4 separate regions of the Homo sapiens genome follow, and regions 2, 3 and 4 are each linked to region 1. Evidence: fine-mapped expression QTL. A gene starts in region 1. Each other region holds a variant in brackets. All regions are shown on one strand. Distances are between the middles of the regions.

What was found.
Region 2: its variant is fine-mapped to the expression of ZNF12 in whole blood (INTERVAL, PIP above 0.99).
Region 3: its variant is fine-mapped to the expression of ZNF12 in naive CD4 T cells (Schmiedel 2018, PIP 0.95).
Region 4: its variant is fine-mapped to the expression of ZNF12 in lung (GTEx, PIP 0.98).

What each region holds. Positions count from the first base shown.
Region 1 is chr7:6,703,058-6,711,163 of GRCh38, forward strand. It overlaps ZNF12 (zinc finger protein 12), which reads right to left and starts at 3,890. Exons shown (of 5, transcript NM_016265.4): 1 at 3,375-3,890; 2 at 2,102-2,166. The coding sequence starts at 2,116. RefSeq lists a silencer at 3,506-3,865 and an enhancer at 3,559-4,058.
Region 2 is chr7:6,675,398-6,683,503 of GRCh38, forward strand. No RefSeq gene overlaps it. Among named protein-coding and RNA genes, the nearest start is that of ZNF12, 27 kb to the right of the region's middle. The variant T/C (reference allele first, on the strand shown) is at 3,646.
Region 3 is chr7:5,939,557-5,947,662 of GRCh38, forward strand. RSPH10B (radial spoke head 10 homolog B) reads right to left here. Exons shown (of 21, transcript NM_173565.5): 13 at 5,508-5,622; 14 at 4,355-4,434; 15 at 3,768-3,916. Among named protein-coding and RNA genes, the nearest start is that of RSPH10B, 27 kb to the right of the region's middle. The variant T/A (reference allele first, on the strand shown) is at 3,372.
Region 4 is chr7:6,959,500-6,967,605 of GRCh38, forward strand. It overlaps LOC112267992, which reads right to left and starts at 549. Exons shown (of 2, transcript XR_002956537.2): 1 at 353-549. LOC107986763 (a long non-coding RNA gene) reads right to left here. Exons shown (of 3, transcript XR_001745073.1): 3 at 2,346-2,423. RefSeq lists an enhancer at 3,237-3,736. The variant G/A (reference allele first, on the strand shown) is at 3,938.

The DNA of each region.
Region 1 (8,106 bases):
ACACACACCCCTACCTGCCTTCCTGATGCTGCCACTCACTGCATACCAACACAGCCCAAATTTTAAACATCTGAAACCTAATTCTGGCCTTTTCTCAAGCCTGCTTTACCCACAGTCTTCCCCATCCCAGCTTCAGGCAACCTCATTTTCGTAGTAGCCACTCTGGGAGCCACGCAAGTGCTTTTCCCATGGGGGAAGCACGATATGATGAACACTTCAGGAGAAATACTCGACATGGGAAATGCAATATGCCTGGGCTTGTGGAGGAAAGTAGCAGTATAGAAAGAAAATCTCTACAACAGTAGAGAGGCCAAAAAATAAGCTATTTTTACAACAGCAGGGAGGGGATAGGGGACAGGATAAAAACCATCTAGAATATGACATGTACAAACTCAAAACAATCGCGAGGTCAGAAAATGGACAACTTTAGAAAGAATCCCATCTTTCTCGATAGGGCTACAGGCTGGACGATGGAACAATGAATCAATAGGAACAAGAGAAGGCATAGGTGGGGGGGCTCCAAATAATTATTCTGAACCTGCTGCATCTATGACCTTGAGGGGTCCTTTGGACACACTCCAAAGAAATGCTAAGCAGGTGGCTGGACAGTTCTATGTGGGAAAACCAACACAGAGCTGGTAGTTAGAAGCACAGGAGGGTGACATCAGATAGGTACAGAGTCGTGAGCCAAGAGTGGACACCAACACATGAAGACCAAAGAAATCATCAATTTCAGGAAGCAGGCAAGAAGAGAAAGGGCACTCAAACTGACAGAGCAAACTGCAGAGTGGGCCAAGGCAAAGATGCAAATGTCCACTAAGAGCATGTGCTGGATTATTGGCAACCTTTTCCAACAAGGTCAGGGGAGTGGTAGGGACAGGACCAAGACCACAGGCTATGGGATAAAATGGGCATCTATGCCAGAGATTTATTATGGTCCTTTCTGCTGTGCAACCCAGATAAACTAAGAGAAATATTTAGGGAGGCGGCTTGGCATGGTGGCTCACACCTATAATCCCAGCACTTTGGGAGGTCAAGGTGGGCAAATCACTTGGCACTTGAGGTCAGGAGTTCGAGACCAGCTTGGCCCAAGTGCTTCTGAAACCCCGTCTCTACTAAAAAAATACAAAAATGAGCTGGGTGTGGTGGCAGGTGCCTGTAATCGCAGCTACTCGGGAGGCTAAGGCAGGAGAATCGCTTGAATCAGGGATAGCGCCACTGCACTCCAGCCTGGGCAACAGAGTGAGACTCCATCTTTAAAAAAAAAAAAGAAAAGAAAATATTTAGGGAGACTAATTTAAGGGTGAGAAGGCCATTTCTGCAACGGATAGAGCAGTAAAAAGAATCTACCTTTGAGACAACAATGTTTTAGTTACTAGAAATATTATGGGCTGGGCGCAGTGGCTCATGCCTGTAAGCTCAGCACTTTGGGAGGCCGAGGCGGGTGGATCACCTGAGCTCAGGAGTTCGAGAGCAGCCTGGCCAACATGGTGAAACCCTGTCTCTACTTTAAAAAAAAAAAAAAAAAAAAAAAAGGCCGGGTGTGGTGGCAGATGCCTGTAATCCCAGCTACTCCAGAGGCTGAGGCAGGAGAATCACTTGAACCTGGGAGGTGGAGGTTGCACTGAGCTGAGATAGCGCCACTGCACTCCAGCCTGGTGACAGAGCGCAATACTTGGTCTCAAAAAAAAAAAAAAAAAAAAAAAAAAAAAAAGAAAGGCAAGAATTGCAATGGTTCAAGGGTTATTATTTAGGAAAGCTGTTGATAATGATCTCAGAGGAATCTTTAAAATTCATGCAAAAACAAAAGTGATTCTGCTTACGGTCAATGTAAGTCAAGGAATGGATGGTATTTATCATTTTTTGTGATAAATGCCAAGAACATAAGACGCTTGTACTCTGACTTCAAGAACTCTTTAAGGATCACGCTATCTGCGCATATGAATATGATAAAAAGGCTTGGTGCTGATGGCTACTGTTCTGTCTGACCAAATCTTGTATCTATTTCTACTTTCCCATTTTAAACTTTGAACCCTTAATCTCCTCCTAAGGTGTATTGTAAATCAGAGTAGAGAATAAATACATGAACAGAAACACTCACCAGGGATTTATTCATTTTCTGCTGCTCTTGGAAAAATCTGGAGGACTGTGAAAGCGGAGGCAGATCTGGGGAAGGAAAACCCAAGCCATGGCGTTATGAGCGGTCTGGCCTGCCAAGGCGGTCATCTCCCGCCCAAAACCTACACAGAAAGTTCCAAGAAGTACATCTTGTGGGAGACTGTCCCTTTAAGCCTTCAGAAGGGATTGGAAAATGATCAGGAGGGGGACCGATCTGCACATTTGAAACTCACACATGGCTACCTTGTGACTGAGTGGATGAGATTCTCATGGTGAATGAATACTGGATCCTACTGAAATAATCTGCCATCATTAAATGCAAGATTTAAAAAGGAATTCTGGTGACCAGCCTGGCCAACATGGTGAAACCCCATGTCTAGTAAAAATACAAAAATTAGCTGGGCGTGGTGGCGGGCGCCTGTAACCCCAGCTACTCGGGAGGCTGAGGCAGGAGAATCGCTTGAACCCGGGAGGCGGAGGTTGCAGTGAGCTGGGATGGCACCATTGCACTCCAGCCTGGGCAACAAAGCGAAACTTGTCTCAAAAACAAACAAACAAACAAACAAAAAACAAACAACAAAAAATGAATTCTGTAATACTCATCTATTTTCTTACTCTTTTAAATAAAGATCAGAAAATCCACAGGATGCCCTAAATAAAGGAATACAGTCGGCATAATTGAGTCTTTATTTGCAGAAACTTCAGTGTGCTACTCAAAAGGATCTTTTATTGAAGAACTTACGCTCACTTAACTAGGATACGGGGGACAGAACACTGGCCTGGGAGATAAAACTCCAGAGTTCTACTATGAGCAACTCCACCCACAAAACCTCGGACAAGTCACCCACCTGCTAAGGCCCTTCCCCTAGCAAATGAGGCAGCAAGAGATAGTTCCTGCAGGCTGTTCCTGCACTACAACGTATGATTCCACAAGAGCAGACCTAAGGGGGAATCAGCACTTAAATGAGAGAACAGAGGTGCTGACGGACGTTTAGATACGGTAGCAATCTGGAGCAGAGAGAGGAGGAAGGGCTGCTGGGGTGAGGGGGGAGTGGAGACAACGTCCGCAGCTGAGGCTGGTGACACCCCCCACGCCCCCGTAAGCCTCGTCCTCGCCGGACCCTGCCTTCAAACCCAAACACACGTCACTCCTGCAAGCGATCGAGACCTTCCACTGTCCCTCACTCTAAGGTGCCCTACACGCGGTGACTTCACCCAGGCCCTTCTCGCCCCGGGCCCGCAAACCCACGACTTACCCTCCTGGGGCTCCGCAGCCTCTGCCCCACCGCTCCCGACAGGCCGGGGCGGGATTGCTGTCGCGGGCGCGCGTCTGCTCGCGAGGTCCCTTCCTGTCCACCTCACCAAGGCCGTTCTGCTCCAGAGGGGCCCGGGCCGGGCCTACGGGACAAATCCAGGCGGGGCGTCCCTCCCGGAGCCCAGATCCGTCTCCCTGGGGCTCACCGTCCTGCGGAGCCGGGGCCGGGCCGTCGAGGACGCACACGGGCCGGGCCCGGGTCCCGCCGCCCCTTCGCCTCCGCCGTCGTCACCGCCCGGCCGGCCCCTTGGGCCCCAGCGCCGTCGGCTCCGGGGGTCGTGCTCGGGGATCCCCGCTTGAGCCTCCGCCTGGCCCGCACAGCCCCGCGCCCGCTTGGGTGCCGGCCCGGCTCTTCGGCGCCCAGCCCCGCAGGCTCCGCGATTCTCGCCCACCGGAGGCCAAAGCCTGGGAACTAGGGCGAGCGGTGACCTGGGGACGCACAGGAAGCGAGGGCACTGCGGCCGCGGCGCGCATGCGCGAACACGCACACAGAGAGGGGTGCACATGCGCAGGAATGCACCGGAAGTCCGCCTCCCGGGACCCGCCGCCGGTCCCAGGACAAATACCGTGACTCTATTTCCCATGAGCCTACGCGCTCCCCAAATTTAGGAGCCATTTGAAATGTCTCTATCTGGTCTAGCGGTTAAGAGGCTCTATGCTAAGAGAATTGGCAACGCCGAACCCCAGACTCAAATTTCTCCTTAGTTTAAGGGAACGTCTTCATGGGGATGTCTTGACTATCTTTAAGGGAACGTCTAGAAAGTCTCTGCTTCCTGTAGCATCTCGTAGACCATGCCTGGGCCAGTCCTGCCTTACCGGAGAGCTCAAGGCTTAAAATCAATGTCCATGTGCAACCGTGACAAATGGAACAAGAGGGTGCATCATGCTAGCTTATGATCACAATGACACATTTAACGAAAACTTCAGTAAATAGAGCCCATGGATGAAATAATAGAGGATTAGCCTGGGACAGGATACCATCCTCGCCCCAACAAGGAGAAAAAGAATTCCAGCTTTTCCAAATCACTTTGAATTAGTGATAGCTAGAAAACTCAGAGAATATGTACAGAATTGAAAGAAGAAAAAAATTAGCCAGAACTCTACTTCCTGAAGAGGATGAGGCAAGCAGAAGAAGAAATTTGCGTCTTAATGGAAAACGAAGCACATTTAGAAAGCCATGTTACTTGATTCCAACCCTGTTCCTTATCTTTGAGGTATTTTACACCTCTTTGAAAACTGTAGGTAATCGATGCAAGTTATGTTCTGTCTGGTGGAAGTTGGTTGACTTCCCACAATCCCCACTAGAGAAAATGCAGTTTTGACTGCATTTCTCCATTTACATAATCATTTCAATATTCCTGATCTGAAAATATGTCTGTTTCTCAGATTCTCTCTCTCTCTCTCTTTTTTTTTTTAATTTTGAGACAGGGTCTCACTCTGCTGTGCATGCTGGAGTTCAGTGGCGAGATCTTGGCTCACTGGTTCAAGGAATTCTCCTGCCTCAGCCTCCCAAGTAACTGGGATTACAGGTGCACACCACCAAGCCCGACTAATTTTTGAATTTTTAGTAGAGATGGGGGTTTCACCATGTTGGCCAGGCTGGTCTTAAACTCCTGACCTCAAGTGATCCACCCGCCTCAGCCTCCCAAAGTGCTGGGATTACAGGCATGAGCCACCATGTCCAGCCCTCAGATTCTCTTTTGAACCAGTTATAATATCTGCCTGTTTCCTCTTGAATTAAATAAAATCTTTAGCATGTGCTCATTTTTATATCTGTATCAGAGTCATGATTTTACTTTTATGTTTTAAGGTTTTCCAGGTCTTTGCAGAAGTCCCTGATGGAATCACATGACTGAGCCAGGAAAACCTCAGGACTGGAGTGCCTCATGAACTGTTGAAGCCCAGGTGAATCTTTTCTTGGCTCCCAGGAATGAGTCCAAAGTGCCAGTAGAAATTTGCTGGCTTCTCATTTTTCAGTAATTTCCCCATTTACCAATCCTGTGTTTTACTTTGGTTTGCATTTGTTTACATTGCTAGCATCACTGATTGGGACTTTGTTTGTTTTTGTTGTTTCAAGGCAAAGTCTCACTCTGCCGCCCAGGCTGGAGTGCAGGGGTACGATCTCGGCTCACTGCAACTTCTGCCTCCCAAGTTCAAGTGATTCTCCTGCCTCAACCTCCTGAGTAGCTGGGACTATAGGTGCATGCCACCATGCCCGACTAATTTTTGTATTTTTAGTAGAGACGGGGTTTTTCCATGTTGGCCAGACTGGTCTCGAACTCCTGACCTCAGGTGGTAGACTCGCCTCAGCTTCCCAAAGTGGTGGGATTACAGGCGTGAAGCACCGCGCTGGGCTAGGAATTTGGTTTTATGGTCTGATCACATGGTGATCTCTGTAATGAGATTAATGTTTGCAAAGACCTAATCTCTGTTGGGTGAGAGACATCAGAGTCTGATTTGTTATTCTATTTCTCTGTCTATTTTGAGCTGAAATCAATTAAGAATTTCATGCCCACTGGGAGGAGAAGAGCTCTTTCATATCTGGAAGGGTGAGTTTTTGCATTTTTGTGTTTACTCTTGACCCATGTCTGAAATTTTAGAATTGAAGCTGTAAGCTCTATTTCTTTGTATGTCTGTGTGTCTGTAATTTAGAAAGGTCTTTACCTCTGATTGTGTGAGTGTCTAATGTTTTTCCACCTCTGAATGGTATTATAGTAGATATAGAGTTTGTTTGTTTGTTTTTGAGACAGGGTCTCACTCTGTCGTCCAGGCTGAAGTGCAGTGTGTGCGATCACGGATCACTGCAGCTTCAACCTACCTGGGCTCAGGTGTTCCTCCCACCTCAGCCTCCCAATTAGCTGGGACTGCAGGTGTGTACCACCATACCCAACTAATTTTCGTATTCTCTATAGAGATGGGGTTTTGCCATGTTGCCCAGGATGGTCTCGAACTTCTGGGCTCAAGCGATCTGATCACCTCAGCCTCCCAAAGTGCTGGGATTACAGGCATGAGCCACAATATAGAGTCTTTAAAGGTTTGCTGTTCTGATTGGCTTGTAGAGGTGTGTATGTACTTATATAAATTGAATTTGCCCAAATTCTTAGAAAAAAAGAGAAATTGAACTTCTGTTGCTTTAATGTGCTAGAAAGGTATTTTTTACTGAAACCAAATCAAATGTTTTGGAAATGCGAGTCCGCATGTAGTCCACATATATGTTACCGAGCAGTCAATGCACTCGCTGCCCAGTGTGTACAGAGGCCAATACCATGGCTCCAGCTTTTGAGAAATAAAGCCTTTTTGTAAGTCAACTAGCAAGGACACAGGAGGAAATGCTCAAATCTCCCTTTCCCAGCTGGGGGCTATGTCAGGTTTTGTACGCATAGGGTAAGGAGATGTGATTTGATTGGATCTTGAGATGAAGTAATTAATGCTGGGAGGTGTGATCTGACTGGATCCTGCCATGGAGTGACACCAAAACTCAATCTCATTGGTTCCTGGCTCCTGCCACAGGGTGTCCGGTTCTTAAATGGGTCCCAGCTCCTCAGTCCGAGCACTTAGGTTCCACTTCGTGGTTGCATGCTTGGTTAATCTGGGCATGCTCAGAGTATATGACCTTCAACCCACGGATCCATGGCAGTTGAAAAACAACTGCCAACTACATTACATAAAAGTTGAAATGGACGTGGAGTGTGGTGGCTCACACCTGTAATCCCAGCACTTTGGGAAGCTGAGGCAGGCAGATCACGAGGTCAGGAGTTCCAGCCCAGCCTGGCCAATATGGTGAAACCCCGCCTCTACTAAAAATACAAAAATTATCCAGGGGTGGTGATGCGCTGAGGCAGGAGAATCTCTTGAACCCAGGAGGCGGAGGTTCCAGTGAACCGAGATCGCGCCATTAAACTGCAACCTGGGTGACAAGAGCAAAACTCCGTCAAAAAAAAAAAAAAACTTGAACTAGATTTAGTCTGATGCAGTTCCAGATTTACAAACCGTGTCCCCACCCTCCTGCCGACACCTTCCACTCCTCATTCTTGAGGGATTAGGGATGGAGGTCATGCTTCTGTATCTACTTCATGCTGACCAGAGGCACTGAGTCCCCTAAAGTTAGAGGAATGAAACTCTTGGGCTGCTGAGTTCAAATGAGTTTTGGGGTCACCCAGAATTGCTTGAAGGGCTGGTATTGTTGTGGTAATACAAGCTGAAGGTGGAAGTGTTGGAGCCGGGAGGACAAACAGCTCACCATCAATTTAAATAAACAGGACTGAAAAGTACCAGGAGAACAGTGGCCACGAGGGGCCCCAACAGAGGAAGAAACCAGGTGAGGTGCGGTATAGTGGACTCGACTGCTTTCTAAATCTCAGTGGTTGGCCAGGCACTGTGGCTCATGCCTGTAATCTTAGCAAAAGGGAGGCCGAGGCAGGCGGGTCACCTGAGCTCAGGAGTTGGAGACCAGCCTGGCCAACATGGTGAAGTCCCATCTCTACTAAAAATACAAAAATTAGCCAGGCATGGTGGCATGTGCTGTAGTCCCAGCTAATCGGGAGGCTGAGGCAGGAGAATTGCTTGAACCCGGGAGGCGGAGGTTGCAGTGAGCCTCCAGCCTGGGTGACAGAGCGAGACTCTGTCTCTAAATAAATAAACAAATAAATAAATCTCGGTGGTTCAACTACCCT
Region 2 (8,106 bases), 28 kb before region 1:
CGTGATCTTGGCTCGCTGCAGCCTCCACCTCCTGGGTTTAAGCGATTGTCATGCCTCAGCCTCCCAACTAGCTGGGATTACAGGTGCCTGCCACCATGCCCAGCTAATTTTTGTATTTTTAGTAGAGACAGGCTGGTCTTAAACCCCTGACCTCAAGTGATCAGCCTGCCTTGGCCTCCCAAAGTCCTGGGATTACAGGCATGAGCTACTGCACTTGGCCTGAAGTCACATCTTAATATTCATCTGAGAAATCACACAGGAAAGAGACCCCATGTATGTAATGAATGTGGGAAGGCCTTTTCTATGAAGTCAAACTTCACTGATCATCAGAGAACACACTGAGAAGAGAAATCCTATGAATGTACTGAATGTCAGAAAACTTTTCACCATAAATCAACCCTAACAGTACATCAGAGAACTCATATGGGGAGAAGCCTTATAAATGTAATGAATGTAGAAAATCTTTCTATATGAAGTCAGCCCTCAGTCAGCATCAGAGGATACATATATGGGAGGAACATTGTGAATGTAAAGAATGTGGGAAAACCTACCAGAGGTCACACCTTGCTAAACATCATCGAAAATACACCACACAAGAAACCCTATGAATGTAAGCAATGTGGAAAAACCTTCCAGAAGTCACACCTCATTGAACATCAGAGGACACACCCAGGGGAGATACCCCATGAATGTAATAAATGTGGGAAATCCTTCTGTTATAAGTCACCCTTGACCATTCACCAGAGAACTCACATAGAAGAGAAGCCCTATAAATGTAGCAAATCTGTTACTTATTTCTGTATGAAATCACACCTCACTGTGCATCAGAGACCCCATACCAGGAAGAACCCTTTTGAGTGTAATGAATGCAGGAAAATGTTTTATGTGAAGTCAAACCTCATCAATCATCAGAGAACTCACACAGGGGAGAAACCATATGAAGGCAATACATGTGGGAAATCTGTATGAAGTCATCCTCCACACAAGAGTGATACTCTGAATTGTAACAAATATGGGAAATCCTCATGTGTAAAGTCAATTTGTTTTTCAAACCAAAATTCATGGTAGAAACCTTATGAATGTAAATAATGTAGGGGTCTCCTTCTGTGTAAATTAAATCCTTAGTTGGCATCAGAAAACACAAGATATAGGGACTGGAGGCCTCTCCACAAATGAAATGGATATGGGAAGATTTTGTGTTATCTTAGAAAATACTGGCCGGGCATGGTGGCTCACACCTGTAATCCCAGCACTTTGGGAGGCTGAGGCAGATGGATCACCTGAGGTCAGGAGTTCAAGACCAACCTGGCCAACATGAGGAAACCCCATCTCTACTAAAAATACAAAAATTAGCCAGGCGTGGTGGCAAATGCCTGTAATCCTAGCTACTTGGGAGGCTGAGGCAGGAGAATTGCTTGAACCTCGGAGGCGGAGGTTGCAGTGAGCCAAGATCATGCCATTGCACTCCAGCCTGGGTGACAAGAATGAAAACTCCATCTCAAAAAAAACAACAACAACAAAAAAAAAACCAGAAAACTCAAATGAGGAGAGACCCCTGAGAACATCTTGTATATTAGTATCCACCAAGAAATCAAATACAGTATGTTTCACATAAATCACAGGGAAAAACCGATAGAACAGTAATATAAAAGCATTTACAAAGTTCCAGCACATTTGCACAACATATGATTGATACTGGTGTAAAACTATGTTTTCTATGCATGAAAGCTTTCAGGAAAAATTCAACTATAAGCAGACAATTAATACTGAGGGGACGTCTATCAGTTTAGGAGATAGAGATACTTTATTTTTTTGAGATGGAGTCTTGCTCTGTCGCCCAGGCTGGAGTGCAGTGGCGTGATCTCGGCTCACTGCAAGCTCCGCCTCCCGGGTTCACGCCATTCTCATGCCTCAGCCTCCCAAGAAGCTGGGACTACAGGCACCTGCCACCACACCCGGCTAATTTTTGTATTTTTAGTAGAGATGGGGTTTCACCATGTTAGCCAGGATGGTCTCGATCTCCTGACCTTGTGATCCATCCGCCTTGGCCTCCCAAAGTGCTGGGATTACAGGCGTGAGCCACTGCGCCCGGCCGAGATACTTTTTTTTCCCTACAAATACTGTAATACTAGAAGTCACATTTCAGGTACCAAATTTAGCAAATGTGATGTGTGATACATCTAATGCTAATGACATTCATTGTTGGAAGATGAAGTCTTTTGAAAAACAAGTTGCAGCAGCAAGCTGACAGTATTAGATATTTGAGTACTTGAGGTAAGATGGCCTTACATTTGTTAGTGGGCAGCATACAACATACATACATGGCCTGTGTTTGATTTACATAGTGGAACTCCACCGAGTGGTCAGCAGGAAATATCTCTCCATAGCTTAAGAACTGTTGTAACACATCTACCACACAAAATGCCTCCAGTGTATCTTTGTATCTTTTTGTTTGTTTGTTTTTGGGTCAGAGTCTCGCTCTGTTGCCCAGGCTGGAGTGCATGGCACTATCTCGCTTCACTGCCACGTCTGCCTCCCAGTTTCAAGTGATTCTTCCTGCTTCAGCCTTATGAGTAGCTGGATTACAGGTGCCTGGCACCGTGCCCAGCTATTTTTTGTATTTTTAGTAGAGACAGGGTTTCTCCATGTTGGCCAGGCTGGTCTCAAAACTTCTGACCTCAGTTGATCTGCCCGCCTTGGCCTCCCAAAGTGCTGGGATTACAGGCATGAGCCACTGTGCCCGGCCTCTTTGTATCTTAATAGTACAGTATACTTGATATGTGACATGTATGACATTTGCAGTATACAATATGTTATTGAGAAATGCAGAGTACAGAAAACTATATGGCTTGCTGCCTTTTGTTTGAGAATTGAGGGGAAGAAATAATACGTATGTACATAGATATTTTGTATATATATTTATCTATTATATATGTTTATATATTTTTTTAATTTTTAAATTTTTTGTAGAGATGGGGCTCGCTATGTTGCCCAGGCTGGTCACGAACTCCTGGGCTCAAGCGGTCTTCCTGCCTCAGTCTTCCAAAGTGCTTAGATTACAGGCATGAGCTACTGTGCTTGGCCAATATATTTTATATAATATATATATTTTGCAAATAAGTATAAACTACAAACTACAAACCTGAAGAGTAAATTACAAACTCAAAAGTGAATGCCTATGGAGATAGGAGTGAACAGGGTGGCAGGGCTGAGGATAGAGACAAGGCTTCTTCACGTGTAGCTTTTTGTGAAGTTTTGACTTTTGGATAAATATGAGTAATTTACGTACTCAAAAGCACATTTTGAAATTGAAACCAAAGAAGAAATCAACTGAAGTTTATATCAAATTGGTAACTTCACTAAGTAGAAGAGCTCATTCTTTCAAGAGACTTTTAAATGCAGTATGATGAGCATATCCTTAGTGGGATTTGTTTCTGTTTTAGGACAAAAAGAACTTAAAAAATGACATTTAGAAGACACCTGGCTAGGTCTCTTCAAAAAGCTGACTTTTTTTTGAGACGGAGTCTCACTCTGTTGCCCAGGCTGGAGTGCAGTGGCGCGATCTCGGCTCACTGCCAGCTCTGCCTCCTGGGTTCACACCATTCTCCTGCCTCAGCCTCCCGAGTAGCTGGGGCTACAGGTGCC[T/C]ACCACCACACCCGGCTAATTTTTTGTATTTTAGTAGAGATGGGGTTTCACTGTGTTAGCCAGGATGGTCTCCATCTCCTGACCTCGTGATCTGCCCGCCTCGGCCTCCCAAAGTGCTGGGATTACAGGTGTGAGCCACCACACCCACCTGCTGCCATCATTTTTAAAAGGAGAGAAAAGGTGGAGGGACTATTTTTCAAGGGCAAACATGCTGAATATAGAAAGATGAACTGGCTTGATGTCTGCAGCCTTGAAGTGGCTCAGGAAAAAGATGCATGCATCGATAAAGCAAAAATGGCAAAATTTAAGCAAGTGTTGATCTGGCAGGCACATGGGTATTGACTGTTTTTCTTACAAGAGTTGTGTTTGAAAAATTTGATAATAAAAAGTTTTGGAGAAGTACTGTACCACTTAGCAATTCTGTTACTGTTCTTTGGCGTATATAAATAGCTCTGCCCGTGCTTATTGATCTGCTTGTCAATAAAGAAGCCAAACAGTAACCTTTAAAGTGTTCAGTTGTTTTGGGTTTTAGTCACTTCAATAAAAACAGAACATAACCAAAGGCTGGTCATGGTGGCTCATGCCTGTAATCCCAGCACTTTGGGAAATTGAGGCAGGAGGATTATTTGAGCCCAAGAATTCAAGACCAGCCTCGGCAACACAGCGAGACCACCTTGTCTCTGTAAAAAGTTGAAAAATTAGCCAGACATGGTGGTGTACACCTGTGGTCCCAGCTACTTGGGAGGCTGAGGCAGGAGGATCTTTGAGCCAGGGAGTTTGGCTTTGCAGTGAGCTGTGGTTGTGCCACTGCACCCCAGTCTGGGCAACAGAGCAAGACCCCATCACAAAAAAAAGAAATAATGCAAAGGCAGCGTATTATACCATTAACAACTCAAGCTTGTGTTAAGAACTAGGTGCAAACAGTAGTGCTCATTGCACTGACAATGAAAATAGTATTGTATAAAGAAAATGTGCTTCTCTTTCTACTCCTGACACGTTTCTAAGCGGTGCCTCCAGAAGTACATGGCATAGGCCCCAAGCGGTAGGAGCCCAGGAACCATTTGCCAACAGGGTGGCAGCTGTTGTGTCCTCATTCTTTCTCCCTCCTCTACCTGGATTTCCTTGCAGCAGGGGGCAGACTGTTCTAGGCTGCTTTGTTGCATGAAAGCCTTGGTGTGGCCTGTTTTCCCCCCCTCAACAGGGACTGTTTGGGTTGGGCATATGACCAAGCCTTGACCTCTAGGATGTGTAGGGAAGTGTTCTGTATGATTTTTGGGAAAGGGTTTATCACTGATGAAGAGACATGAGCAGAATCACATTACCCTTCTGAATACATCCATTGTTTGCGTCTTGTGGCCCAGGGCTGTAGTTGGAGGTTGGTGAGCAGAGATAGAAGAGCCTGGCCACTGATGGTATGAAGCACTGATTTAACCCACACTGAGGAGGCTCTGGATTGGGCACTTGAGGTCATTAGTTTTTCTTATTGTGTAAGCCTGTTGGAGTTGAGATTTTTCTGTGACTTGGAGCTGTAAGGCATCCTAACTTTGAAGAGGGATAGTTTTTGTTTGTAGAGAAAGGGTCTCTATGTTGCCCAGGCTGGTCTTGAATTCCTGGGCTTAAGTGATCCTCCTGCCTTGGCCTCCTAAAGTGCTGTGATGACAGGATACATTTTTTTAAAAGAAGTTGTGTAATTCAGAAGTGTTAGTCACAGTGATTTGGGGGCAAGAATGATTTTGAGAAAATGATTCAGCAGCTGCTTTCTGCTCTGTACATTTATATGTAATAAGGAAATGCAGGTACCCTTGAACAGCACAGGTCTGGACTGAGCAGGTCCACTTGTAAGTAGTTTTTGTTTTTTTTCCCAATAGTTGGCCCTCCTTATCTGCAGGTTCCACATCTGCAACCATATACAGCTCAAAACTATAGTATTCACAGAATGCAAACCTGAGGATACAGAGGGCCAACTTTGTATACAGGTTCTGAAGAGTCAACTTCAAAACTTTTGTATGCGGAGTTTGGTATCCACAGGGGGTCTGGAAACAATTCCCCCATGGATACTAAGGGGCGACTGTAATGTCATTTCTTATTTGCAAGAATCCAGAGCGGAAAATGTTCTTTTCGAAATTAGTTGCATATTAAGTATTCTTTCTCTTCATATAAAATGTCATTTTTAATTGATCAAATTATTCATTGCCTTTTTTTTTTGACAAGGTCTGGATTCATGTACGGATGTAATCTTTACTTTTGCAATGAACTGCTAGTTGTCCTTACACTATTTAAGAAATCCATCTCTTTGTCCCTGGTTTGAAATACTATTTTTATTTTATTTTATTTATTTATTTATTTGTTGAGATGAAGTCTTGCTCTTGTCCCGCAGGCTGGAATGCAATGGCATGATCTCAGCTCACTGAAACCTCCACCTCCTGGGTTCAAGCAATTCTCCTGCCTCAGCCTCCCGAGTAGCTGGGATTGCAGGCACCTGCCACCACATCCGGCTAATTTATATATATATATTTTTAGTAGAGATGGGGTTTCACCATGTTGGCCAGGCTGGTCTCAAACTCACGGCCTCAGATGATCCACTCGCCTCGGCCTCCCAAAGTGCTGGGATTACAGGCGTGAGCCACCATGCCTGGCCGAAATACTACTTTTATCATAGGGTAGGTCACTGTTAGTAGTGTCTTTGCTTTTTGTGTGCTCAGCACTCTTTCTCACATCTTTGTAGAAAGAGAAGCTGAAAACCTGGAGAGCTGGAAGTTCTCTGGGTGACCATTCATTCATTCCACCATCCTTTTGGCCCATCTTGATTTTACCAGGGAAGGACATTCAATCTGAGAGGTTAATGACAGTTGTTGGGAGGTTGTAATGGGAGGTCATTGTAGAGCCGTTTTTTGGTTTGGTTTCGCCTGGGAGTTGTCAGCAGCTTGGTTTTATTGGTTTTTGTCTAATTTACAGTTTTAGTCCTGCTTGGCATAGCTTGTGAGTCCCGTTATGCTTTGCTTAACAACAGAGATATATTCTGAGAAATGCTTCATTGTGTGAATGTCACACAGCGTGCTTACACAAACCTACGTGGTAAAGACTACCATCTGGGCTGTATGGTATGGCCTATCGCTCCCAGGCTACAAACCTCAACAGCATGTGACTGTACTGAATACGCTAGGCAACTGTAACACAGTTGCATTTGTGTATCTAAACAGAAAAGGCACAGTAACATGCGGTATTAGAATCTTATGAGACCACTGTTGTATATCTGGTCCATCACTGATCAAAATGTTATGTGGTGTGTGACTATACTCCAATTCTGAGTTTTATTCTATTTTATTGAACTATGAATACTTTATGCTAAAGAAGATCATGTTCCAATTCCTCTTGCTTTGTAATCTTTTCCATACATCAAAGAACAATCCTGTTTTTCAAGCTTTTTGGCTTTTCCTACAATTCATTCTCAGAGATGACCTTTAGAATAGACTCACCAGGCTCTTATTTCCAAAGCCTGTAGGGATTATGACTAAATCTGCATTTAAATTTAACCTCAGTGAACTGCCCACTGAGGGGGGCCACTCAATCCAGCTGGCTTGAACAATCTCTTGATGACCAGAGACTGGGGGGTCACTCCAGCTGCTCTCCCCGACCCCAGGGACATCACCATGGCCCACTGAGCATTCCTGGGGCCCCAGGCCTGCCTCATCTTCCTTCCAATTGTCTCCTTTCTAACTTTCTTTGGGGAAGGTGGCACCTAATTTGAATGCCCTAGAGGTTGACTGTTTACCTGCCGGCTTTACCCAGGGACTTGCAGCTTCCAGGTAGGGTAGGAGGAATTTTTTGTTGGAGGCATTTGCTGGATGCCTTCTCCATTGTTTCAGTGGTATTTCCTCTTAACAAATGCAAACGTAACAGCTCACACAATAGAACTTCAGTTTTCAATCACACCAAGTCCAAAATCAGCACTCTTGTTCAGAGAGTGGCTTCCAGGGACTTCAGTTTTTCTATAAATGGCTTCTCAGTTCTCCTTCAGGTTTCCAAGGTCAATCTGCTCATTAGCAGAAAGGGAGAGAGGATGGAGAAGGCACACTGGCTTTTTGGCCACCTCACCTGTGGCAAGTGATGCAACAATTCTGCCCCACTGGTGACAATGTGTCATGAAGGCCCCATTTGTGCAAATGGCTGGCAGGTCTCATCTGCCTGGACAGTTGTCTCTGTCATCTTTCCTCTGCTCTGGTCCTGACAGGCATCTAGGCAACTCTGTTGCATCCTAAGGCTTTGCTTTCCCATCTTACCTGTCCATTTGTCCAGCTGTCTACTCACGTCCTGAGGGCCAAAACCTAGTCACCTGGCCACAGCTAGCTAACAGGAAAGTGGAGAAATGAACTCTCCAGTTACAGCCTGAACAACACAGTGAGACTCTTTCTCTACAAAAAAAAAAAAAAAAAAAAAAAAAAAAAAAAGCTGGGCATGGTG
Region 3 (8,106 bases), 760 kb before region 1:
CTGGGTAACAAAGCAAGAACCTGTCTCAAACACACACACACACACACACACACACACACACACACACACACACACACACACGTATTTACCTCTCTATCCCTTCTCTAGTGCCTCCAAAATAACAGCAGAGTATTTGTTGGCATCAGAACAGGACATAGAACATGGGAGACCAGAACACGGTCCAGGTGTGAAATATTAACACGATGCTGTAGGCCGAAAAGCACGTCGGGAAACAACGTGCTGCACAACAAAACCGATGTGACCGCAGAATAATTGACATGAAGAAGAGTTAAGCTCCTGACCACACGGCACTGGTTGAAGTCACAGTTTCCAAGAACCTATCAATAACGTTATGTGGGGCCGGGCGCGGTGGCTCACACCTGTAATCCCAGCACTTTGGGAGGCCGAGGCAGGCGGCTCACGAGGTCAAGAGATCCAGACCATCCTGGCCAACATGGACAAACCGCATCTCTACTAAAAATACAAAAAAATTAGCTGCGCATGGTGGCGTGTGCCTGTAGTCCCAGCTACTCGGGAGGCTGAGGCAAGGGAATCACTTGAGCCCAGGAGGCAGAGGTTGCAGTGAGGTGAGATCGTGCCACCGCACTCCAGCCTGGGTGACAGAGCAAGACTGTCTCAAAATAATAATAATAATAATGTTAAGTGAGGACTTACTGTACTCAAATGTTCAGGTTTCAATGTTTTTTTTTTTAAATCACTCATACCGACCAGCCTGGGCAACATGGTGAAACCCTGGCCAACATGGAGAAACCCCGTCTCTACTAAAAATACAAAAATTAGCCTGGCATGGTGGCACGCACCTATAATCCCAGCTACTTGGGAGGCTGAGGCAGGAGAATCACTTGAACCAGGAGGCAGAGGTTGCAGTGAGCTGAGATCACGCCACTGCAGTCCAGTCTGGGAGACAGAGCAAGACTCCATCTCAAAAACACAACAACAAAAAAAAAACTCATACCAAGAACCAGGAAGATCTCAAACTGAATGAAAAAAAGAGAATCCACAGATGCCATCTCCAAGATGACAAAGATGTTACAATTGACTGACAGAGACTGTGAGACAGTCATCACAAAAATGCTTCCATGAGGCTGGGTGTGGTGGCTCATGCCTCTGATCCTAGCACTGTGGGAGGCCGAGATGGTTGGATCACCTGAGCTCAGGAGTTTGAGACCAGCCTGGGCAACAGGGTGAAACCGTCTCTACTAGCCGAGCGTGGTGACATGCACCTGTAATCCCAGCTACTCGGGAGGCTGAGGCAGAAGAATCACTTGAACCCGGGAGGCGGAGGTTGCAGTGAGCCAAGATCAGGTCGCTGCACTCCAGCCTGGGCGACAGAGCAAGACTGTCAAAATAATAATAATAATAATAATTATTATTATTATTATTATTATTATTATTCAATGGGCAATTGCAAACATGCTTGAAACAAATGAAACCATGAAAAGGGCCAGGTGCAGTGGCTCACGCCTGTAATCCCAGCACTTCAGGAGGCCGAGGCACAAGGACTGCTTGAGCCCAGGAGTTCAAGATCAGCCTGGGCAACATGGCAATAACCCGTCTCTACAAAAAATAGAAAAATTAGCTGGGTATGTTGGCACACACATGTAGTCCCAGCTATTCAGGAGGCTGAGGTGGGAGGATTGCTTGAACCCGGGAGGTTGAGGTTGCAGGAAGCCAAGATTGCACCACTGTACTCCAGCCTGGGTGACAGAGTGAGAACCTTGCTCAAAAAAACAAAACTATTTTCCTATAGTTAGACACTAGGTTATTATCCATTTTTCATATGTATACAACATTATGAAATTTGTAAAAACACTGTATCATTAGTATTTGATTCTGTTTAATCATTTGTATTCCCACAAGTACAAATTAAAAGTACCATGGAACAGGCCAGGCACAGTGGCTCACGCCTGTAATCCCAGCACTTTGGGAGTCCGACACGGGCGGATCACGAGGTCAAGAGATTGAGATCATCCTTGCTAACATAGTGAAACCCTGTCTCTACTAAAAAATACAAAAATTAACTTGGCATGGTCATGCACGCCTTTAGTCCCAGCTACTCGGGAGGCTGAGGCAGGAGAATTGCTTGAACCCGGGAGGCGGAGGTTGCAGTGAGCCGAGACCTCACCACTGCACTCCACCCTGGCAAAAGAGCGAGACTTTGTCTAAAAAAAAAAAAGTATCATGGAACAAAAACAACCAATAGTTAGTATGAGAACATTGTATAAATGTTGTCACTATTTTCCCAAGTAATAACTTTTAAAAATTCCTTTTTCGATAAACTGTAATTGTTTTAAATGATATCCATCCTCCCCACTTCCTTAGTTTTTTTTTTGAGACAGAGTTCTGCTCTTGTTGCCTAGACTGGAGTGCAGTGGCACAATTCCAGCTCATTGCAACCTCGGCCTCCCAGGTTCAAGCAATTCTCCTGCCTCAGCCTCCGAAGTGGCTGGGATTACAGGCTCCGGCCACCATGCCTGGCTAATTTTTTTGTATTTTTAGTCGAAAGGGGGTTTCACAGCATTGGCCAGGCTGGTCTCAAACTCCTGACCTCGGGTGATCCACCCCCTCCGCCTTCCAAAGTCCTTCCTTTTTAAAAAGATTTCAGTTGACTTTATTGCTATTCTAGGATCAGGCAACACTTCAGTCCATCAAAAAGACTAAGGTGTTCCTCCATTTTCCTTTTTTGTTTTTTGGGGGATTTTTTTGGGACAGGGCCTCACTCTGTCAACCAGCCTGGAATGCAGTGGCACGATCACAGCTTACTACAGCTTCCCGAGTAGCTGGGACTACAGGCGTGCACTACCACGCCCGGCTATGATTTTTTTATTTTTTGTAGAGAGGGGGATCTCACTATGTTGCCCAGGCTGGTCTTGAATTCCTAAGCTCAAGTGATCCTCCTGCCTCGGCCTCCCAAAGTGCTGGAATTACAGGGGTGCCCCGCTGTACTCGGCCCTATCTTCCTTTAAATGGCTGGATCTGCATAAATAAAGATATTGTAGGCCAGTCAGGCACAGTGTCTCACACCTGTAATTCCGGCACTTAGGGAGGCTGAGGCGGGTGGATCACCTGGGGTTGGGAGGTCAAGACCAGCCTGGGCAACATGGTGAACACCCGTCTCTACTAAAAATACAAAAATTAGCCAGGTGTGGTGGCGGGCACCTGTAATCCCAGCTACTCTGGAGGCTGAGGCAGGAGAATTGCTTGAACCCAGGAGGTGGAGGTTGCAGTGAGCCAAGATCACTTCATTGCACTCCAGCCTGAGTGACAAGAGCAAAACTCCGTCTCAAAAAAATAAAATTAAAAATATATATATATTTATTATATATATATTTATTTATATATATATATAT[T/A]TTTTTTTAAGACAATGGCCCATGGCATATATAAATATATATGTCCATGCTGGTCTTGAACTCCTTGACCTCAGGTGATCCGCCCACCTCGGCCTCTCAAAGTGCTGGGATTGCAATATATATATATATGCATGCCATGGGCCATTGTTATAGGCCATGGACCATTGTCTTGCCCTAATCTGTTAGCATATTGGGCAGGTGACGGCTGTTTCTGTTCCTTCCACGACCACAGACCACTGTTCTGCCAAGAGACTCAGTAAACATTTAATGGTCCTGAAAATCCAGCCCAGATCTTCACCTGATTATTTGCATATCACAGCTGGAATATCCTGCCTTTCTTTAATTAAAATCAAAGTGCCTGTAAATAGAAAGCCAATATCGAACTTAGGTGGTTACTTTCAGCATCCAGAGGAAGTGTCTCATCTTCATCGTAGGCTCGTGGGGAGGCGCTGCACTGGGTCTGCAGTAAGCGAGATAAATCTCCCAGCACTTATTCATGTAACTCATAGAGTAGAGCGTCCGCTGTTGCTCACGGAATAAATTGCCTAAAAATACAACGTTCGAAAAATGATTACAGATTTATGTTTTGAGAAAAAAATAGCAGTAAATATAATCCTATTGCTTTTGTTTTTTTCCCAGACAGAGTCTTGATGTCACCCAGGCTAGAGTGCAGTGGCACCATCTTGGCTCGCTGCAACCTCCGCCCCCCAGGCTCAAGCGATTCTCCTGCCTCAGCCTCCCGAGTAGCTAGGATTACAGGCATGCACCACCATACCTGGCTAATTTTTTTGTATTTCTAGTAGAGATGGGGTTTTGCCATGTTGGCCAGGCTGGTCTTGAACTCCTTGACCTCAGGTGATCCTCCTGCCTCGGCCTCCCAAAGTGCTGGGATTGCAGGAGTGAGCCACTGCGCCCAGCCCAGATTTATATTTTGAGAAAAAAAAATGGGGCGGTAAATAGAATCCTACTGGTTTTGTATTTACCTTTTATCTGGAAGGCATTTGGACGAATGTTCTCGGTCATCAGTTTTGTAAAACACAAGAAGAGGGATGGGCTTCTCTTTCTGTGATAATCATCAAAAGATACCATAGTTACTTCTCCTCCAAAAGAGGGAACTTAATTCCCTTCTCCTTGAGCACGGGCTAGACTTAATAATTTGCTTCTAATGTATAGAGTATAGAAAGGGAAGGCAAAGTCAGTGGCTCAAACCTATAATCCCAGCATTTTGGGAGGCCAAGGTGGGCGGATCACTCGAGGTCAGGAGTTTAAGACCAGCCTGGCCAACATGGTGGAACCCCATCTCCACTAAAAATACAAAAAATTAGCTGGGCTTGGTGGCAGACACCGGTAATCCCAGCTACTTGGGAGGCTGAGGCAGGAGAATCACTGGAACCTGGGAGGTGGAGGTTGCAGTGAGCCGAGATCGCGCCACTGCACTCCAGCCTGGGTGACAGAGCGAGATTCCATCTCAAAAAAATAAATATATAAATAAAAGTTTTTTTAAAAAAAGATATAAAACCACTTTTGCTGTAAGAAAGACAAGAAATTCTGACATAAGAAAGAAGACTTGGTTGTGACTATTTGTTTCTGCATTAGAAACCCCGAGAGATATTTGCAGTATTGAACTGACCAGATATGAAGGGCTTTCAAAGTTTTGATCCAGTATGTCATGGCTTTGTGGTTAATATTTGTGGAAAGGTTGTGTTCTGAGTCCTTCATTTCAAGAGTATGTTAAAAAAAGACTGCTGAGGCTGGGCATGGTGGCTCACGCCTGTAATCCCAGAACTTTGAGAGGCTGAGGCAGGTGGATCACCTGAGGTCAGGAGTTTGAAACCAGCCTGGCCAACATGGTGAAACCCCGTCTCTACTAAAAATACAAAAAAAAATTAGCCAGGCATGGTGGCACATGCCTGTCATCTCAGCTACCCAGGAGCCTGAGGCAGAAGAATTGCTTGAACCGGGGAGGCAGAGGTTGCAGTGAGCCAAGATTGTGCCACTGCACTCCAGCCTGGGCGACAGAGCAAGACTCCATCTCCAAAAAAATAAAAATGACTGCTGAAGAAAAGAGGGCATTATGACAATAATACAGCTTAGCTGTGCCCCATCCCCCAACAAGGGTCCAGAAATAGTACTTACTGGAATTCTTCATGATAAATGTGGTACGCCAAATGCAGGAGGTAATTCAAAAATGTTCTCAAAAGTATTGTTGTAAATGGAGAATGGATTTCTTCAACTGGTATGTCATTATTGGCTAAAATAAGAAAATTGGAGAGGATGCCTGACATTTGCTAGAACCTTCCATTTTATTTGCGCCTGGTATACAATTCGAAGAACTGAATATATGCGCTTATTTCAAAATGCTCTGAACATGTGTATAAGCGTCCAACCAAAAATTTAAAACTCCGTGAAAGCCAGGCACGGTGGCTCACGCCTGTAATCCCAGCACTTTGGGAGGCTGCAGCAGCAAATTGCCTGAGGTCAGGAGTTTGAGACCAGCCTGGGCAACATGGCGAAACCCTGTCTCTACCAAAAATACAAAAAATTAGCCAGGTGTGGTGGCGGGCACCTGTAATCTCAGCTGCTTGGGAGACTGAGGCAGGAGAATCGCTGGAACCCGGGAGGTGGAGGCTGCAGTGAGCCGAGATTGAGCCACTGCACTCCAGCCTGGGCAACAGAGCGAGACTTCATCTCAAAAAAAAAAAAAAAGATGTCAATCTTGTCCCACTGTTTTCCAGAATAGTCTGAGACACAATCTGATGAATGCTGCTAATTCTAAATGGATTTTAAGTATGTTTCAAACACTAAACTTTGACGTAAATAGGCATTTGCTCTAATACTTCATTTTTCAAGCGGATAATTAGAAGCTTGCAGCTCTGCCTGCCAGGATTTGGCTGAAAGAAGTTAAACTTCCAAAGTTGTTAAATTGATGACATCAACTTCCTAATTTGAAATCAAGACCAATCCTAAGACTACTTAGGGCCTTTTCTAGACTCTTCCAAGCCATTGCTGATTCTCCCTGTTTTGTTTTTTTTTTTTTCTTTTGAGACAGAGTCTCACTCTGTTGCCCAGGCTGGAGTGCAGTGGCACAATCTCGGCTCACTGCAACCTCCGCCTCGCGAGTTCAAGCGATTCTTCTGCCTCAGCCTCCCGAGTAGCTGGGACTACAGGCACGTACCACCACACCCAGCTAATTTTTTGTATTTTTAGTAGAGACGGGGTTTCACCATGTTAGCCAGGATGGTCTTGAACTCCTGACCTCATGATCTGCCCACTTCGGCCTCCCAAAGTGCTGATTACAGGTGTGAGCCACCGCATTTTTTTTAGAGACAGAGTCTCACTCTGTCACCCAGGCTGGAAATCTCGGCTCACTGCAACCTCCACCTCCTAGGCTCAAACGATTCTACTCCTGTCTCAGCCTCCCAATAAGTAGCTGGGAATACAGGCATGTACCACCATACCTGGCTAATTTTTGTATTTTTAGTAGAGACGGAGTTTCACCATATTGGCCAGGCGGGTCTCAAACTCCTGGACTCAAGTGATCCACCCGCCTCGGCCTTCCAAAGTGCTGGGATTACAGGCGTAAACCACGAGGCCTGGCCATCTCCCCATTTCTGACCTGACAATTTAGTGCTCTTTTACTATAGATCGCTGGTCAGGGGGAGAGAGGGAGGCAAACTTTCTGTAAAGGGCCAGAGAGTAAATATTTTAGGCTTGGTGGACCAGACCGTCTACATCACAATCCCTCAGCTGTGGTGCTTCGGGGTAAAGCAGTCACGAACACGTAAGCAAACGGGCATGTCTGTGTTCCAGTAAAGCATGATTTAGGGGAACGGGGGTGGACTGGATTTCACCCTGAGACCGTGCATTGCTGGCCCTGCTTTTGTAGGTGACCTCGTGCTGTTGCTGTTATGTCACGAGACTGTCTCTTTATCAAGTACCTCGTAATCACGGGGGAAATGACCACGCGCTGATTTCTGGAACACTCGTCTCCCAACCTGGGCCTTCCCAGCTCCCTCCACATTTCCTAACTGCTTTCCAGGTGACACTGTGATACTGTCCTTGAAACCAGAGGTCCCCAACCTTTTTGGCACCAGGGACCGATTTTGTAGAAGACAGTTTTTCCATGAATGGTGGAAAGCGGTGGGGGGCTGTTGGTTTCAGGATGATTCAAGCACATTCGAATTACTGCACGCCTTATTTCTATTATTATGACACTGTAATACATAATGAAACAATTCTACAACTCGCCATCAGGTAGAATCAGTGGGAGCCCTAAGCTTGTTTTCCTACAACTAGACAGTCCCATCTGGGGGTGATGGGAGACAGTGACAGATCATCAGGCATTCCATTCTCCTAAGGAGCGTGCAACCTACATCCCTCCCATGCTCAGCTCACAGTAGGATTTGCGCTCCTATGAGAATCTAATGCCCTGCTGATCTGCAGGAGGCGGAGCTCAGGCGGGAATGCCAGCGATGGGGAATGGCTGTAAAAACAGATGAAGGTAGGCTGGGTGCGGTGGCTCATGCCTGTAATCCCAGCACTTTGGGAGGCCAAGGCGGGCAGATCATCTGAGGTCGGGAGTTCGAGACACGCCTAACCAACATGGAAAAACCCCATCTCTACTAAAAAATACAAAAATTAGCTGGGCATGGTGGCACATGCCTGTAATCCTGGCTACTCAGGAGGCTGAGGCAGGAGAGTCACTTGAACCCAGGAGACAGAGGTTGCGGTGAGC
Region 4 (8,106 bases), 260 kb after region 1:
ATGGTAAGGGGTGCATGATAGGTTGCCAAGGAGGGAGTAGAGGTATCTTCTACTTGTGGGTTAAGGTGGGTGGCAATGAGACGTGGCTGTAGTCCAGGAATAGTCAGGGAAGCAGATAATTTAGTTAAAGTGTCTCAGCCTAATAAGGGAACTGGGCAGGTGGGGATAACTAAAAAGGAGTGCTTAAAAGAGTATTGTCTAAGTTGGCACCAGAGTTGGGGAGTTTTAAGAGGTTTAGAAGCCTGGCTGTCAATACCCACAACAGTTATGGAGGGAAGGGAAACAGGCCCTTGAAAAGAAGGTAATGTGGAGTGGGTAGCCTCCGTATTGATTAAGAAGGGGATGGACTTACCCTCCACTGTGAGAGTTACGTAGAGCATCTGTGATGGTCCTGTAGGCTTCTGAGGCAATCGATCGGGCATTGTCAGTCTTCAGCTGCTAAGCCAAGAAGATCTGGGAAGGAGTCAGTCAGAGAGCCTTGGGCTGGAGTTCCAGGGGCTCTGGGAGTGGCTGCCAGGTGAGTTGAACAGTCCAATTTCTAGTGGGGTCCTGCACAGATGGGACATGGCTCAGGAGGAATCCTGGGCTGCAGGCATTCCTTGGCCTGGTGGCCAGATTTCTGGCACTTGTAGCAAGCTCCTGGGAGAGGCGGTTCTGGAGGAATGCCTGGCCACTGCGCTTTAGCCGTTTGGAAGTTCTTGTGTGCTGGAGATTTGGCTGGGGTTTGTCTCACAGTGGAGGCAAGGAATTGCAACTGAGAAATATGTTGCTACTTGGCTGCCTCTGCTCTATTATTGTACACCTTGAAGGCGAGGTTAATTAAGTCCTGTTGTGGGATTTGAGGGCCGGAATTTAATTTTTGGAGTTTTATTTAATGTCGGGAGCAGACTGGGTAATAAAATGTATATTGAGAATAAGACGGCCTTTTGACCTTTTAGGGTCTAGGGCTGTAAGGCAACTCAGGGTTGCTGCCAAACGAGTCATGAACGGGGCTGGATTTTTAAATTTGATGAAAAAGAGCCTAAACGCTATCTGATTTGAGAAAAAGAAAAAGGAGCATTAACCTTGACTATGCCTTTAGCTCCAGCCACCTTTTTAAGACGAAATTGCTGGGCAGGTTGGGGAGGGCTGGTCACAGAATTAAACTGCAAGCCAGATCCAGTGTGAGGAGGGGAGGTGATAAAAGGATTATAGGGTGGAGGAGCAGAGGCTGAGGAAGAATTGGGAGCTAGCTCAGCCTGGCGAGGAGGGGAGAGGTCAGATGGGTCTGTAGAAAAGGAAGATTAGAAAGACTCAGCGACACTAGGGGTTGGGACTGAGGGGACAGGTGGGAGGGAAAGAAGGAAGATTTGGGATGAGTTGCATTGGGAACAGAGACTAGGGAGGGACCAATGTGTAAGAGAATACCTGGACATCAGGCATCTCAGACCATTTGCTCATTTTATGACTAGAATTATCTAGATATTGTAGGATGGAAAATTTGAAAGTGCCGTTTTCTGGCTATTTGAAACCACTGTTGGGTTTGTATTGGGGTCAAGCGGCATTGTAGAAGAAAATAAGGCATTTAGGTTTTAGGTCAGGTGTGAGTTGAAGAGGTTTTAGGTTTTGAAGAACACAGGCTAAGGAGAAGAAAGGGGAATGGAGGATGGAAGCTTGCCCATAGTGAAGGAGGCAAGCCTAGAGAAAAGAGACAGTAGAGACATGGAGAGAAGGGATGGGGGGTTCTTGCCTTCCAGAAAAGAGGGAAAGGGGTTGGGGCACAGAAATAAAAGGTTGGGGTGCAGAGATAAGAGGTCAGGTTGTGGAAATAAGGGATCGGGGCTCAGAAATAAGAGGGCGGGCATGGAAATAAGGGATCAGGGCACAGAGATAAGAGGTCAGGGCATGAAAATAAGGTATCGGGGTGCAGAGATAAGAGGTCGGGGTTCTTGCCCCTCCCCCAGAAAAGCAGGACTTGCTGCTAAGGGTGAAGGACCAAGGCAGGCATCCCTGCGTGGTCTGACACCTCTGAAACCTGGGTGAATAATCAGAGAGGCGTCCCTGCAATGATTAAACACCAAGGGAAGGCTGCCTTCCCTAGTCCATGACCAGCGCCGGAGTTTCGGGTCCACGGATAAAACGTGTCTCCTTTGTCTCTACCAGAAAATGAAAGGAATTGAAATTAAGAGAAGGGAGATATTGAAGTGTGATGCCAAGATTGGAAGGAGAAAGAGGTTGAGGGATAGTGAGGGAGGTTGGAGAAGAGAGTAAAAAGAAGCCGCTTACCAGATTTGAAATTGGTGAGATGTTGCTTGGGCTGGTCAGTCTGAGGACCTGAGGTCGTAGGTGGATCTTTCTCACAGAGCAAAGAGCAGGAGGACAGGGGATTGATCTCCCAAGGGAGGTCCCCCGATCTGAGTCACAGCACCTAATTTCACATGCATCTGTGTGAAGAGACCACCAAAGAGGCTTTGTGTGAGCAATAAAACTGTTTATGTCACCTGCGTACAGGTGGGCTGAGTCCAAAAAGAGAGTCAGTGAAGGGAGATAGGGGTGGGGCCATTTTACAGGATTTGGGTAGGTAAAGGAAAAAGGGGGGTTGTTCTCTGGCAGGCAGGAGTGGGGGTCACAAGGTGCTCAGTAGGGGGGCTTTTGAGCCAGGATGAGCAAGGAGAAGGAATTTCACAAGATAATGTCATCAGTTAAGGCAGGAACTGGCCACCTGGGTATGTACATGCAGGTCACAGTGGATATGATGGCTTAGCTTGGGCTCAGAGGCCTGACACTCTTCCTCCAGAGGAGGAGACCCAGACAGAAGAGGAGGAGGCAAGGTGATCACAGAGGCAAAGAATGGATCATGCAGCCACAAGTTGAGGAATTCTAGTAGCCTCTACAAGCTGGAAGAGGCAAGGAATGGATTCACCTCTAGAACCTCTGAAGAAGCATGCTCCTGCTGACATTTGATTGATTTTGGACTTCTGGCTTCCAGACAATTTTTTTTTTTTTTTTTTTTTTTTAGACAGAGGCTTGCTCTGTTGCCCAGTCTGGAGTGCAGTGGCACGATCTCAGTTCACTGCAACCTCCGCCTCCCAGGCTCAAGCCATTCTCTTGCCTCAGCCTCCCAAGAAGCAGGGACTACAGGTGCCTGCCACCATGCATGGCTAATTTTTGTATTTTTAGTAGAGACGAGGTTTTGGCATAGTGGCCAGGCTGGTCTCGAATTCCTGGCCTCAAGTGATCCACCCACCTCAGCCTCCCAAAGTGCTGAGATTATTTAGGTGTGAGCCACGGCACCCGGCCCAGACATTGTTTGAAGCCACCCATTTCATGGTTCTTTGCTGCAGTGGTTGTGGAATATGAATGAACTCGTGCTGTTGGTTAGACTTTGCTGCCCTTGTGTCTGTTATTCCCTGGCAGTTCTACAAGGCCTGGAGCTGATACGAAAAACCTCCCTTCTTTCCCTAATGGTCCCCAGCTTCCCCGTTCACTGAAGGCCCTGCAGTCAGGAACAGTCAGGACTTTGCACCCAGTTGTTGTGGGTGTTTGGCCGACCCTTCCTCTAGTGTGATTCATGGACCCACAGCATTGCGTCACCAGGGAGCTTTTGGAATTGAAGACTCTCAGGGCTCACCCGGAAGGACCTGCTGGGCCAGAATCTGCATTTTAACAAGATGCCCACGTGATTTGCATACACGTTCAGATCTGAGAAGCGCTAGTAGGAGAGGCTTTAAGGTGGTAATTAGATCTTTTCTCCACCTGCAAGAATCTTAGTTTCTTCATGTTAAATCAATTAAGTGTGGCAATGTCATGGGTGTTATAAAACAAAACAAAATCCTTACATCAAGAATGCACCCTGGCGTGTTATGGATGTGGGTGAAATGAAATGTCTGGAATTTGCTTTAAAATATCCTAAAATAGCAAGAAGGAAAAGAAAAGTGGGAACTGGAATGAGATTGGC[G/A]AAATGTTGACAAGTTCTTGCAGTGGGATGATGGGTGCATGGGGGTTCATCGTGCAATTCTCTCCCTGCTTTTTGTGCGTATGGGAAATTTCCATAATGAAAAGTTAGAGGTCGGGCACGGTGGCTCATGCCTGTAATCTCAGCATTTTGGGAGGCTGAGGTGGGTAGATTGCTTGAACCTAGGAGTTCAAGACCATCCTGGACAACATGGTGAAACCCCATCTCTACTAAAAATGCAAAAATTAGGCATGGTGACAACATGCCTGTAGTCATGTTGAGGTAAGAGTTTGAGATATGAGAATCACTTGAACCCAGGAGGCGGAGGTTGCAGTGAGTGGAGATCGCAGCATTTCACTCCAGCCTGGGTGACAGAGTGAGACTTGGTCTCAAAAAAATTTTCAATTTTCTTTTTTTTTTGAGATAGGGTCTTGCTTTTTTGCCCAGGCTGGAGTGTAGTGGGGTGATCTTGGCTCACTGCAAGCTCCACCTCCCGAGTTCACTCCATTCTTCTGCCTCAGCCTCCAGAGTAGCTGGGACTATAGGCACCCAGCACCATATCCGGCTAATTGTTTGTATTTTTAGTAGAGATGGGGTTTCACCGTGTTAGCCAGGATGGTCTCAATCTCCTGACCTCGTGATCTGCCCACCTTGGCCTCCCAAAGTGCTAGGATTACGGGCATGAGCAATCGTGCCCGGCCTTAATTTTGTTTAATTTTTTTCTTTTTTGAGACAAGATCTGTAGCCCAGGCTGGAGTGCAGTGGTGCAATCCCGGCTCACTGCAGCCTCTACCTCCTGGGTTCAAGCGATCCTCCCACCTCAGCCTCCCGAGTAGCTGAGACCACAGGCGTGTATCATCACACCTGGCTAATTTTTTTCCCTTTTTCTAGAGGCAAGGTCTTGCTATTTTGCCCAGGCTGGTCTTGAACTCCTGAGTTCAAGCAATTTTCCCGTCTCAGCCTGGGAGTAATCCCAAAGTGCTGGGATTACAGGTGTGATTCACTCTATCCAGCCTCAACTGTTTTTCATGACTCCACTTTTTCTCCCCTCTTGGAAATGAGTAGTCTTTGAGGGAATGTCATTTTGTCTCAATCTCTGGTTTCTTTGCTCAGTGCAGCTGTGTTTGGGGCTTTGTTGATCTCCAGGCCTTTTTCAGCAGCGTTGTCCCTGGAGAGCAGGATGGGAGCTGATGGCTTCTCAGCATCTTTTAACCTCAGTTTAAAGATGACTATCAACAACATCTAGTCAGCATCTGTTGCTCTCGGCAGCTGGGACTTCATTTCCTTTCTCTTTCTCCACCTCTCTAACCTCTTTAAGACTCTGGCTTTGTCAGGGGTACAGCATCACCTGTGTGGCCCTTAGGCTCTCTTACTTACATGTGATCTGCGTATTATGTCTTTACTTCAGGGCTTCTCAGCCAGGGGGTGATTTTGCCCCCCAGAGAACATGTGGCCATGTCTGGAGACAATTTTGGTGGTTGCGGCTGGAGGAGGTGGTGCTACTGGCAGCTAATGGGTAGAGGCCAGGGATGCTACTAAACATCCTACAATGCCCCGGACAACTCCCACTAAGACAAAAGAATGATCCAGCCCCAAATGTCAATAGTGCTGAAAGTGAGAGACCCTGATTCCATCTTAGAGATCATCCAAGCACACTTGGCCAAATTGTTTTTGCTACTGTCCCATGAAGAAAAGGCAGACTCATGACTGATGGCAACATCGATGGGAGTTTTGCTTACCTCTTCTTTGTGGACTTTGGGATACGATGACTTACCGTTTGTGCAAGTTGTGCATTACATACCTCCAGGGGGCGCCACCCACATATTTATGAAAATGCCACCCCAGGAATTGCACAGTACATAGTCTACGTGGCAATAAGCAGTTGCTCTGGTTTTGGGGTTGCCCTGGGGTGCTCTGGAACTGGGAGGAATTTTATCTCTGGCCATTAGAGGCCCTGAGCGTGACATTGAGTATCCTTTCAAGAAAGGAGAAATGTTGAACAGAGAGGACCTCATTTTTATAACTCTTGACCATCATCTAGTTACGGAGCGTCCACTTTTCTCCCCTGGGCCATATCCATTTGACGGATGAAAAATCATCAAATTATAATATCATGGCTTATACTTTTGATAGATTCTGCCCGGAACATGGCGGTAAGAGCTTCTCATTTTCAATTGATTCATTGGGGGAGAGAATATACACAGCTGTCCTAAGACTTTCAATGACACACCATTTGCTTGATGGGATTTCTTTAGTTTCTGTAGCATAACTTATTCTAACTGGTCCTCAATCACTTTGCAATAAAACCTGAGATTGTGAAGATGTTCATTGTCATTACCAGTGATGGAGCAGTAAGTACAGAGTTCTGGAGAGAGAAGGAATTGAGAGAGTTAAACTAGCAGAATGAGCCGCTCACCCTCAGAATTGCTTTTAATCTTGGTGAGAACTGAGGGGAATTTTGACAGGGTTCAGGGAGACTGCGGGGAGTGGGGCTGGGAGGTGGCTGTTTGCACGTGTGGTCAGCAAATCCAGTGAGGGGTTCATGTACTGTGGGCAGCCCCGCAGATGGAGTTGGGATTGCCCTGGACTGAGTACTGTGTCATCAGTACTCAAGACATCGAGGCCCAGGCTGGTGCAGGAGATACATTGCACTGTGTCAGCCTTTCTTCTATCGCTGCTCTCCAATGACAGTCCCCGATTTTCCACTGAGGAGTCACTAGTCCCCCATGGCATGTGTGCCACTGGCTATTCCCCACCCTGATCTGGAGCTGGGGCATGTGGTCCCAGCCTGGATGCCAGTGTCCTTCCACCACCCTGGCCACAGTGATTGGGTCTGAGAAGCAGATTAGCCAAAGGAGAGACAATCTTGGAAATTTCATGTTCATGCTTAAGAAAGTAAAATGGAAAGCGGGGGGAGGGTGAGGGGTCATTCTGATGATATAGTTTTAGGACCTGGATGTAGCCACACCTGTAGCTGTCAACTCTGTGCTATAGTACTGCTTTTTTTTTTTTCCTTCCAATTTAAATACTTTCTAAAGGCAAGATCTTGCTATGTTGCTTAGGCTGGTTTTGAAAATTCCCTTTCGTGGGGATGCTTTCTCTGCTTCACTTCCTTTCTATGACAGCTCAGGGAATCAGAAGACAAGGGAGATGCCTTTTTTTTTTTTTTTTTTTTTTTGAGACAGGGCTTGCTCTATTGCCCAGGCTGGAGTGCAGGGTTGCAATCACAGCTCGCCACAGCCTTGATCTTCTGGACTCAAGCGACCCTCCTGCTTCAGCCTCCTGAGTAGCTGGGACTGTAGGTGGCTACCACCAAGCCCAGCTAATTAATTTTTTTTTTTTAGAAATGAGGTCTCACTATGTCACCCAGACTGGCCTCAAACTCCTGGGCTCAAGTGATCGTCCTACCTTAGCTTCCCAAACTTACAGGTGTGAGCCCCCACACCAGTCAACGCTGTGGTCTTATGCACCTGGTGTCCCCTACGCCCTGAGCAATGATCCTCCTGCTTCAACCTCCCAAAGTGCTGGGATAACAGATGTGAAGCAGCATGTGTGGTCCACATAGTATTCTTACGGGTTAAATTGAGTCCTCCTCAAAACATGTTGAAATCCTAAATTCCAGCAGCTCAGAATGTGACCTTATTTAGAAATAGAGTTATTGCGGACCGGGCGTGGTGGCTCATGCCTGTAATCCCAACACTTTGGGAGGTCGAGGCGGGTGGATCACCTGAGTTCAGGAGTTTGAGACCAGCCTGACCAACATGGAGAAACCCCATCTCTACGAAAAATTCAAAATTAGCTGGGTGTGGTGGCCCATACCTGTAATCCCAACTACTCGGGAGGCTGAGGCAGGAGAATCGCTTGAACCCAGGAGGCGGAGGTTGCATTGAGCTGAGACCGCGCTATTGCACTCCAGCCTGGGCAACAAGAGTGAAAGTCCCTCTCAAAAAAAAGAAAGAAAGAAAGAAATAAGGTTATTGCAGATGCTGTTGATTAGGATGAAGTCATCCTGGAGTAGGGAGGGCCTAAGTCAATGACTGGTGTCCTTATAAAAGAGGAGAGGACACACCGAGTCACAGAGACACAGGGAAGAAGGCCATGGATTGGACAGAAGATTGGACTGATGCGTATGCAAACCAAGGAACACTGAAGACTGCCAGGAAACCACAGAA